2 separate regions of the Homo sapiens genome follow, and region 1 is linked to region 2. The links come from fine-mapping of genetic effects on gene expression. A gene starts in region 2. The other region holds a variant in brackets. All regions are shown on one strand. Distances are from middle to middle.

Evidence for each region. PIP is the estimated chance that this variant, and not a neighbour inherited with it, causes the effect.
Region 1: its variant is fine-mapped to the expression of PMP2 in tibial nerve (GTEx, PIP 0.94).

Annotation. Positions count from the first base shown.
Region 1 is chr8:80,962,222-80,966,627 of GRCh38, forward strand. No RefSeq gene overlaps it. Among named protein-coding and RNA genes, the nearest start is that of ZNF704, 90 kb to the left of the region's middle. The variant GATTA/G (reference allele first, on the strand shown) is at 2,604.
Region 2 is chr8:81,444,983-81,449,388 of GRCh38, forward strand. PMP2 (peripheral myelin protein 2) reads right to left here and starts at 2,457. Exons shown (of 4, transcript NM_002677.5): 1 at 2,332-2,457; 2 at 1-7. The coding sequence starts at 2,404.

The sequences.
Region 1 (4,406 bases), 480 kb before region 2:
TGAATCGGGCAGCCCCCAGAATCACAGCAGATTCACAGAAACTCCAGGGGTGCCTCATGGTCAGAACACATTTATAGACAAAAAAGGTAAAATGGCGTACAGGAATCAGAAATGAGGTACAGAAACAGTGAAATTAGTTACAGCTCGGCGTTTGCCTTCTTTGAACGCAGTTTGAACATTCAGCAGTCTATGAGTGGTTGAAGTATGGCAGCTGGGATTGGCCAGCGCTCAGCCATTGTAACAGGTGCATACTACTAAGCTGGGTTTTCAATTTTGTCTGACTATTAGGCTAAGTTACAGTTCATCCACAAGGACTCAAATATAGAGTACAGAGTCCTTCTCAGGCCATATTTAGTTTGCTTGAACACTGCCATCATGATATTGCAAAATATTTTTTACCAAGAAGCTCAAAGCAATATTATTGAATAGTTATGAAATCAATTGAAAATAGGTAAATATTCTATAACTAGTTGTAGAAATGGAAAGATGTACATTCTGAGTCCAATCTGAAATCACTGCCTACCTCTCTTCAACCTTCTCCTTCTATATCTGTAGTTCATTAATATCATCATCTTCTATCCAGAGACCCAAGAGTTGTCTTTTCATCTCTATGCCCCTAATTCTGTACATCTTATGAGTAGCCAGATCCCTTTGTTACACCACCTACTGATGTCTAAAATTAGCATTTTTTCTCCCCATTTCCTCTGCCCTGGTCAAGCCTTCATTGGCCCATCTGAACTGATCTCCCAGCCTCTGATCTCAGCATCCCCCCTTGCGAACTTCAAGTGCCTCGGATGCAAGCCCCTTAACTCCTTGCCATCATATGTACAAATGTTGCCTGCATCGCCTACAAGGCTGTGAGTTCCAGAGGGGTTGGCGGGGGGGGTCTGTCTGATCCACCTTTGTGTCATCAGTACAATGCCTGGTAGGTTGGCTGTGAGTAAACCTACATGCTATTCATCTATCTGTTTATCCACCATCCATCCCTTCAACATATATTAATGAGGCCCTATTATGGGCAGGCACACTTGTAGGTAAATGAGAATATGGAAGTAAACAAAATAGATATTGCTGTCCTTAGATATGTTGCTTCTTACACTGATGCATACACTTAAACCTTTATAAAGACATTTTATAAATTTATGGAGTCAAACAGATCAGTGTTTTCCTCTATGATTTGTGCTTTTGTGCATTGCATATTTCAGTTCTAAACCATACATAATAAAGCCATAATAAATATCTCCCACAGCAGAATTTTAAGAACTCAGGCTTGGAAATAAAATTACCTGAGTTCAAATCTCATCTTTGCCACTAAAATCTGGACAAATTTGTTAACTATTCTATGCTTCAGTGTGATATCATTGATTACCATGAGAATAATTATTTAACTCATTAAAGTTGTTTTGAAGATTAAATGAGCTAATACAGTGAGATGCCTGTAGAATGGTAACTCATAAATAGTAAGCTTATATTATTGTAGCTAGTATGTTTGTTTCTTATTATTCTCTCTTTCGTCCATCTGAAGTTTATTTTCATTTATGGTGTAAGTTGGGAATTCAATTTTATGTTCTTTTTTGTTATTTTCTTTTCGTATGTGTTTTGTTTTGAGACAGGGTCTTGCTCTGTTCTCCAGGCTGGAGTGCGGTGACAGAATCATAGCTCATTGCAGCCTCAACTTCCTGGGCTCAAGTGATTCTTCTACCTCAGCCTCCCAAGTAGCTGGGATTACAGGTGTGTGCCACCATGCCCAGCTAATTTTTTAAAAATGATTTTTGTACACAGTGTCTCACTGTGTTGCCCAAGCTGGTCTGAAACTCCTGGCCTCAAGTATTATGTTATGTTTCATATGGAAAACCAATTTTTGCCAAACTTCTGTTTAAAATCTTTCAGTGGCCTCTATTTGCTCCTAATATCACAGTACAATTCTTTTTTTTTTCTTTTTTTTTTTTTTTGAGATGGAGTCTTGCTGTGTCACCCAGGCTGGAGTACAGTGGCGTGATCTCGGCTCACTGCAACCTCTGCCTCCTGGGTTCAAGCCATTCTCCGGCCTCAGCCTCCACAGTAGCTGGGACTACAGGCGTGCACCACCACGCTGGCTAATTTTTGTACTTTTGGTAGAGACGGGGTTTTGCCATGTTGGCCAGGCTGGTCTCAAACTCCTGACATCAAGTGATCCGGCCGTCTCAGCCTCCCAAACTGCTGGGATTACAGGCATGAGCTACTGTGCCTGGGCTATCACAGTATAATTCTTGATTTGATCTACTCTGCTCTGTGGAATCTGGACCCTGCCTCTCTCTCATATTTCCCTTTTTTGTGACTCTATCTGTGGTTCAGATACCCTGCCTTCTTTTGTGGTCCAGGAACATACCAGTGTCTTTTCCTCCCTGGGGCCTTTGCACTTGCTATTTTCTCTTCTTGGAATGTTTTTCTCCCCAAGTTTTATACTGATGCCCCAAGTCATTCAGGCCTTCCCTGACCACCCAGTAGAAAAGGTATCATTCTTCCTGCCCTAACAAACCAAGGCAGTCTCTATTTTATCATCATTTCATTAACTTTATTCCATTTTGTTTTACTCATCACATTTCGGATCTGAAATTTGGTTT[GATTA/G]ATTATTTTTCTTCCCCTGCTAGAATGTAAGCTTCATTGGAACAGAAACCATTAGCTGTTTTATTTATTGCTGTATCCCCAACATCTAGAACAGTGCCCGGGAAATAGTAGATAATAATTAGTGATTAGTCTGTACTTTTCTCCTGATCCAAACAGGCTTGCTTTCTAGATGGATAATACTGGCAACAGTACGGAAGGTTGATTTGAGGTGCTACAGAGTGACTTAGGATGGGGACTGGCTGGACAAGGGCAGGAATGGTGGAGAAGGAGACATGCCGGAGGCCTGGCAAGCTGGCCCGTTATTGATTTATGTGTGCTTGTGTGAGAAGATCAAGGTTTTCCTGGCTTGGAGCCCTGGCGTTGGCTGTGCACCATGCCTGGAATTTCTTTCACTGGCTTATTATTTCAGTCTCACATTAAATGTAACCTGCTCATAGAGGCCTTTCTGGAGGCCTCTCTGTAAAGTGGATCTCCAGAGACTTGGTACAATCAGTGGAGACATTGAGATGCTGAATACCCTGAGAATTTAAACGTGTATGTCAAACATTTAAAGGTAGGCACTAAGGCCATTAGAATGTGAGCTCCAATGAGGCAGGAGTTCTGTCTCTTCTCTCTCACCCTGTTTCAGCTCCTGGCACATAGTAAATACTCAGCAAATATTTATGGAATGAATCAATATTTGGTTTTCCTGTGGCTTGTTTTGTTTTCCTGTTAACTTTGCTTTTCTACTTTGATGTTGCGATGATTAATTTTTTTTCCTTTGGGCCTAAACATTTAAAGCTGTTGCTTTGAATGACGTGTCTGTTTTAGAAGACACTCTGCCAGATTGTGGTGCTGTTTATCTGCATGTCAGATGTCTGCCTTCTTCCCCGTGCCACTGCTTTTTGGGCTGGTTTGACTTGGAGGATATCCCTATCTTGTTACCCTGGCATCTCTTCAGAAATTCACAGTCACAGAGAAGCTTTCGGTGGGGGAAGAGTTCAAGTATGAAATCCTAAGATTCGTAGGCACTAGTTCAAGACAGGCTTGTAAGATTATGGATGATAGAAAGGTAGGAGAATTCAAATCAAACCAAACATTTATTTAGTGCTTGCTGTGTGCAGGAAATTGTAGTGTATGCTACGGGGAATATTTCAAAGTTAATGTGCCCTGAAGAGCAAACAAGGCAGCTCGGAAAGATGATTCCACTCCAGAACAACCACATTTACATTGGGACATACCGAGGGAGACATTGTGGAAACAGATGTGATGCCTGGGAGACAGCTGGCTTTGGAGTGCCGAGGTCCAGCCTTGAGATTTTAAGAATCATCTAGGATGGGAGCAAACATTCAAAATGGCGACCTCAAAAGTACAGTAAGGTCCTGGATAACTCTTCAAAACTGAAAAAAATCGTATTGCAGATTGTATTCACAGAGGTAGAAAGATGGACCCAAGGAGAAACATTTAAAAAAAAAATGATAAAGTCTGGACTGTTTGGCTCACCTTAACTAGGGTATCAGAATTCTCCAGTCCTCTTAATGAGCACTTGGTAAATGTCTACGTCCTAGAATCGGCAGTACACCCACCTCTGACAGAAGAGGCGAGTGCTCCATTCTACAGGTGACAGGGAACCTTCGAAACTGCTGAGCTCTGGAGCTTCCATTTCCCCAGACAGCCCAGGTGGGAAACCAGGATCTGTGTTCCAAAGACTCAGAACAAACATTTCTTAGCGCTGAGCCTCCACACACAGAATGGAGTTGTGATTAATACTCTGGGAAAGGAAAGTTCTGCCCGTGTGGTGAGAAATGAAGCCAGAGTTT
Region 2 (4,406 bases):
CCCACACCTGAAAATTAAGATAGTGTTAGAATTATGTTGACCAAGAGAGCATAGCCAAAGAGACTGTGGTGGCCACATCCTACGCTCAGTGGTGCCCCAGGTGAGTTGATGGCAGGTAATATCACTTACTACTAAGCATCTCCTCCCATGTTTCACTCCTAATGGAAATACATGCCCAGGACTCAAACATTTTAGGTTTTGTTGTTGCAAAAGTAAAGTCTGCAGATTTTCTTTTTTTTTTTTCTTTTTCTTTTCTTTTTGAGACGGAGTCTCGCTCTGTCGTCCTGGTTGGAGTGCAATGGAGCAATCTCGGCTCACTGCAAGCTCCGCCTCCCAGGTTCACTCCATTCTCCTGCCTCAGCCTCCCGAGTAGCTGGGACTACAGGGGCCGCCACCACGCCTGGCTAATTTTTTGTATTTTTAGTAGAGACGGGGTTTCACCGTGTTAGCCAGGATGGTCTCGATCTCCTGACCTCGTGATCTGCCCTCCTCGGCCTTCCAAAGTGCTGGGATTACAGGCGTGAGCCACCGCGCCCGGCCAATGTCTGCAGATTTTCAAGAGTAAAAGTTTCCAGCTGAAATAGCTACTGCAAGTCATCCATTTTTATCACATCCAATCCTATTCCCCATTGAAAATTACTAATTATAGATTTGCATAAATCATTCTAGAGATTTTAGTTTGTATGTACAAATACTATAGATATATTTTAAAGATGAGACTATAGCATATACGTATTGTTCTATGATATTTTCCCTCAATACCATATTATGGATATAGAGAAGTATTCCCCTCATATTTTTGATAGAATTTCACTTCTGAAATTTTGTGGCTTCTATATCTAGCTGGTAGGAAAAAAACTATCCATCTAACTTTGAGATCTATACTATTATAAATGATCATAGAGAAATAAAATATTTTTTAAAAAACTCTTCTACATTTCAAAAATGAAACAAAATTAGACTCTTAAGTTTATTACCATTATTACCAAGACTATAAAATATATGGAAAAGGGAAAATGTAAAATAAAAAATATATGAAAGAAAAACTAATTTTCCAGGAAGTCTCAATGGTTGAATAACTTTTTCCAGTTAAAAAGATCTCAAACTTTTACATACTGAATAAGAAGTTAAGAGTTACAGCCAATAAACTATAAACTATATTCTTTCTTCAAATTCTGATTAATCTTTTGTTATTTTATACAGTTTAGGACAATGTTTCTCAAGTTAAATCATAATCTCTGGGTCAGAGCCTGAGAATTTATATTTACCAAATCCCAAGGTGTTATTTTGCATGCTAAACTGGAAAACAGTGGAATTAGAAAATCCTTCACTGAGACTTTCTTTTATTTGGCTTCTTCCTCAGCTGTAAAGTGAAGTCTTTAAATCTAACCGATCTCACAGTATGAATTGATCCCCATAAGTTCTCTTACTGTTCCAGGCAACAATGACATGACTTTGCTCATTTTATCTAAAATAGAACATTTTATACAGGCTTTCTGAACAGTTAAGTAAAGCTGTAGGCACTTTGACAAGCACAGCAAACTCGGGTCACTGGCATCACTCTTTATTGTATTTATATAGTTCTGAAAATTCCCAAAGACTCTTCATATCTATTGTGTTTATATCGATGGGACATACTCTAGAAATAGTATAAAATAAAGTTGTTGTAACTAATGACTCGGTTTTCCATCTTCACTCACTGCTCCAACTCCAGAAACGTCTGATGTTAGCGAAATTGAGTTTGAATTCACTGCCATAACTCCAGTTCTTTTTCTCTCAGTAACTTCCCTAGACTATGAACACAGTATTTTAGGAAGTATTTTTGTTTTTCAAACTCTCTGTATCTACATGATTGTGTAATAAAGGACAACCTAGAGGTAGAGAGAAAAAACTGTTAGTTTAGCTAAAACTTAAATTTTTAAATTGAGATTTTCTAGGATTTGCAATATATTCAATTCCTTATTTTATGAACACTTCAGTTGCTATGAACGTAGCTCTCAGAAAAGCCAGAAAATGGGTTGACCATGCTTTTAAGCTTTCTCTCCTCTGGACCTGCAACCAAAATTCTCTTGGTATGAAATTGCCCTTGAAATCAGTGGGCATTCCATGCATTTAAGCAGCTCTCTCATTTAAGTTAATTCTATTAAAAATTACCACAAATAAAATTCAAATAAATTATCTGAATGACACAACAAAAGATTAATCCTAAAAGAGGATTGTACTGCAGCCTTGCAAAACTCCCCAGTATCCTGTTAAAAGTAGTAGATGAAAATGTCATGTAGCTTTCTTAAAAAGGAGCTTTTCAGCAGAACAACAAAAAGCATTTCTTACCCAGAGCTTTCATGTAATCGTCAAAGTTCTCACTAGAGACAAGTTTCCAGGTGCCCAGGAATTTGTTGCTCATCGTGATGGGTGAGAGCTCAACACAGTTCTAAGTGGGATTCAGAAGACTCAGATAAAATGCTGAGGCCTCAGAAGATTCTTTTCAAGGATGCCCAAAGCGTGTGACTCTTACAGAGACCCAATGGGGAAAGGCAGTGTCGGGACTAAGCAATGAATGGCTCTTCAATGGCCAGCTGCCCGCCCAATAGGATAAAAGAAAACCCCACATAATACTTCCCTTTGTCTCCAAAAAAATTTATAAAATGAATGAGATTACTATTTGAATCTTCAAAAATTTTTTGATCAATCTTACATTTATAAGAAGGCTTAGGCCCTTCATGCTTTGGAAAAGACTGCATGAATTCTGTGATCATGAATGAATGTGTGTGTGTTTAGGCATGTCGGTCACTCTCAATCCTGAGTCTGCACAATTAAGAATTCTTATTGAAAGGGAAGAAAAAGAGGAAAATGTCTGTAAGTATTATGATAACAGTCTCAAATATGTTGTGGGAGAGAAACGTAGGGGAGCAGTGTGAGGAAGTATTCATAGGTAAGAAGGCTTGGCATAGTTCACATATCCCAGGCAGGCAGAGTAGGCAGACAAAGAAGTCAGTCTATTGCAGCAGAGCACAGAAATTGTATTCATGTGATGAAACAAGAAGTAGCACTATAACATGTTCTTTGAGCACAACAAAGATTTTCAGCTAGAAATACTTAAAGTCTGAACTAAGCAGGTTCCTGGATACTATAACTATTTGTGTTTAAGTCATTTAAAATGAATCTACAATTTTATAAAGAGGATTTTCTATAGAAAGAGTACTAATTTATATTGACAACTCACTATGGGCCAGACACTGTGCTAAGTGCTTAATACGGGTGATCTCATTTAATTATATCACTAATTCCAAGAGTTAGGAACTATTATTATATCCATTTTACCAATGATAAAAATGAGCTTGGGGACATTAGGTAAATTGCTCCCAAAAGTTGAATAAGGAGAGGACAGGTTTGAACCCAGCATTGCTGCCAGTGCCCGGGTTCTGAACCATGATCTTACCCTGCTTCTATTATACTATACCATACATGCTACGTGCACGGAGGCCCTGGCCAGAGATCACCTGATGCTGATAGCACCACGATTAGCTAGAAACACTCTCTCTCTTCTCAAAAATCAAGAGAGGTAAAAAATCAAAAGATCCAGCCTACTATATTACATCAAAGCCCCAGTCTTTGGCCAAGGGGAACAAACGTAAATCCACTTAGAACATAAGTGTTGCTCTTGAGAATCTCTGATTACTGCTATATCTTTCCTAGCAGGTTTTTTGTTTGTTTGTTTTTGTTGTTGTTTGTTTGTTGTTTGTTTTTACCTTAGCATTAATTCTGGCTGGAGACAACTGATATTACCAAGTTTTATACATTTAGTAAACAGGTTGGCACTGTTTACAACAACAAAAATATGATGAATTTGCTCATAACAGGTAGAATTACTAGCAAGAAGGGCTCAAGAAACCCAGTCGCATAGCTGTGACATAACTATTGCAGTTACATAGTTAGAGTTCAAGCTGAGTAAAACACGTGAAATCATATACAGTGGGCTGAAGTTTCATTTACAATCCCAGTGCCTGAATAGCTCAAGGTGGGAAAGAAATGGTGAATAGGAAAATTCCTCAGCTAACCAACTAACCCAATCCTAAACCCAAGAGAATGTAACTGGAGGGAGTACATTGTACTGGGATAGAAAAAACAACTGTGAAAGAAAAAGCTTTTGATTAGTGGATATGTTATTTTATTTTCCAAAACACTTTACAGAAATGATGATATCACTTGTACCTTCAAAACTTTTTTTTTTTTGTTAGCTGTACACTATTAAGGAGTACAGCATTCAACATTTAGGTTTTCTGCCTAAATAAATGAAGGACTCCCAAACCCTCACACTAGAGCTGAGACCTTGTATTCAGTGGGACTGCTACAAGAAAGCTGTGTGAATTTTAAGCTGACTCTGTGTTGCACATAGGAACAGCAGT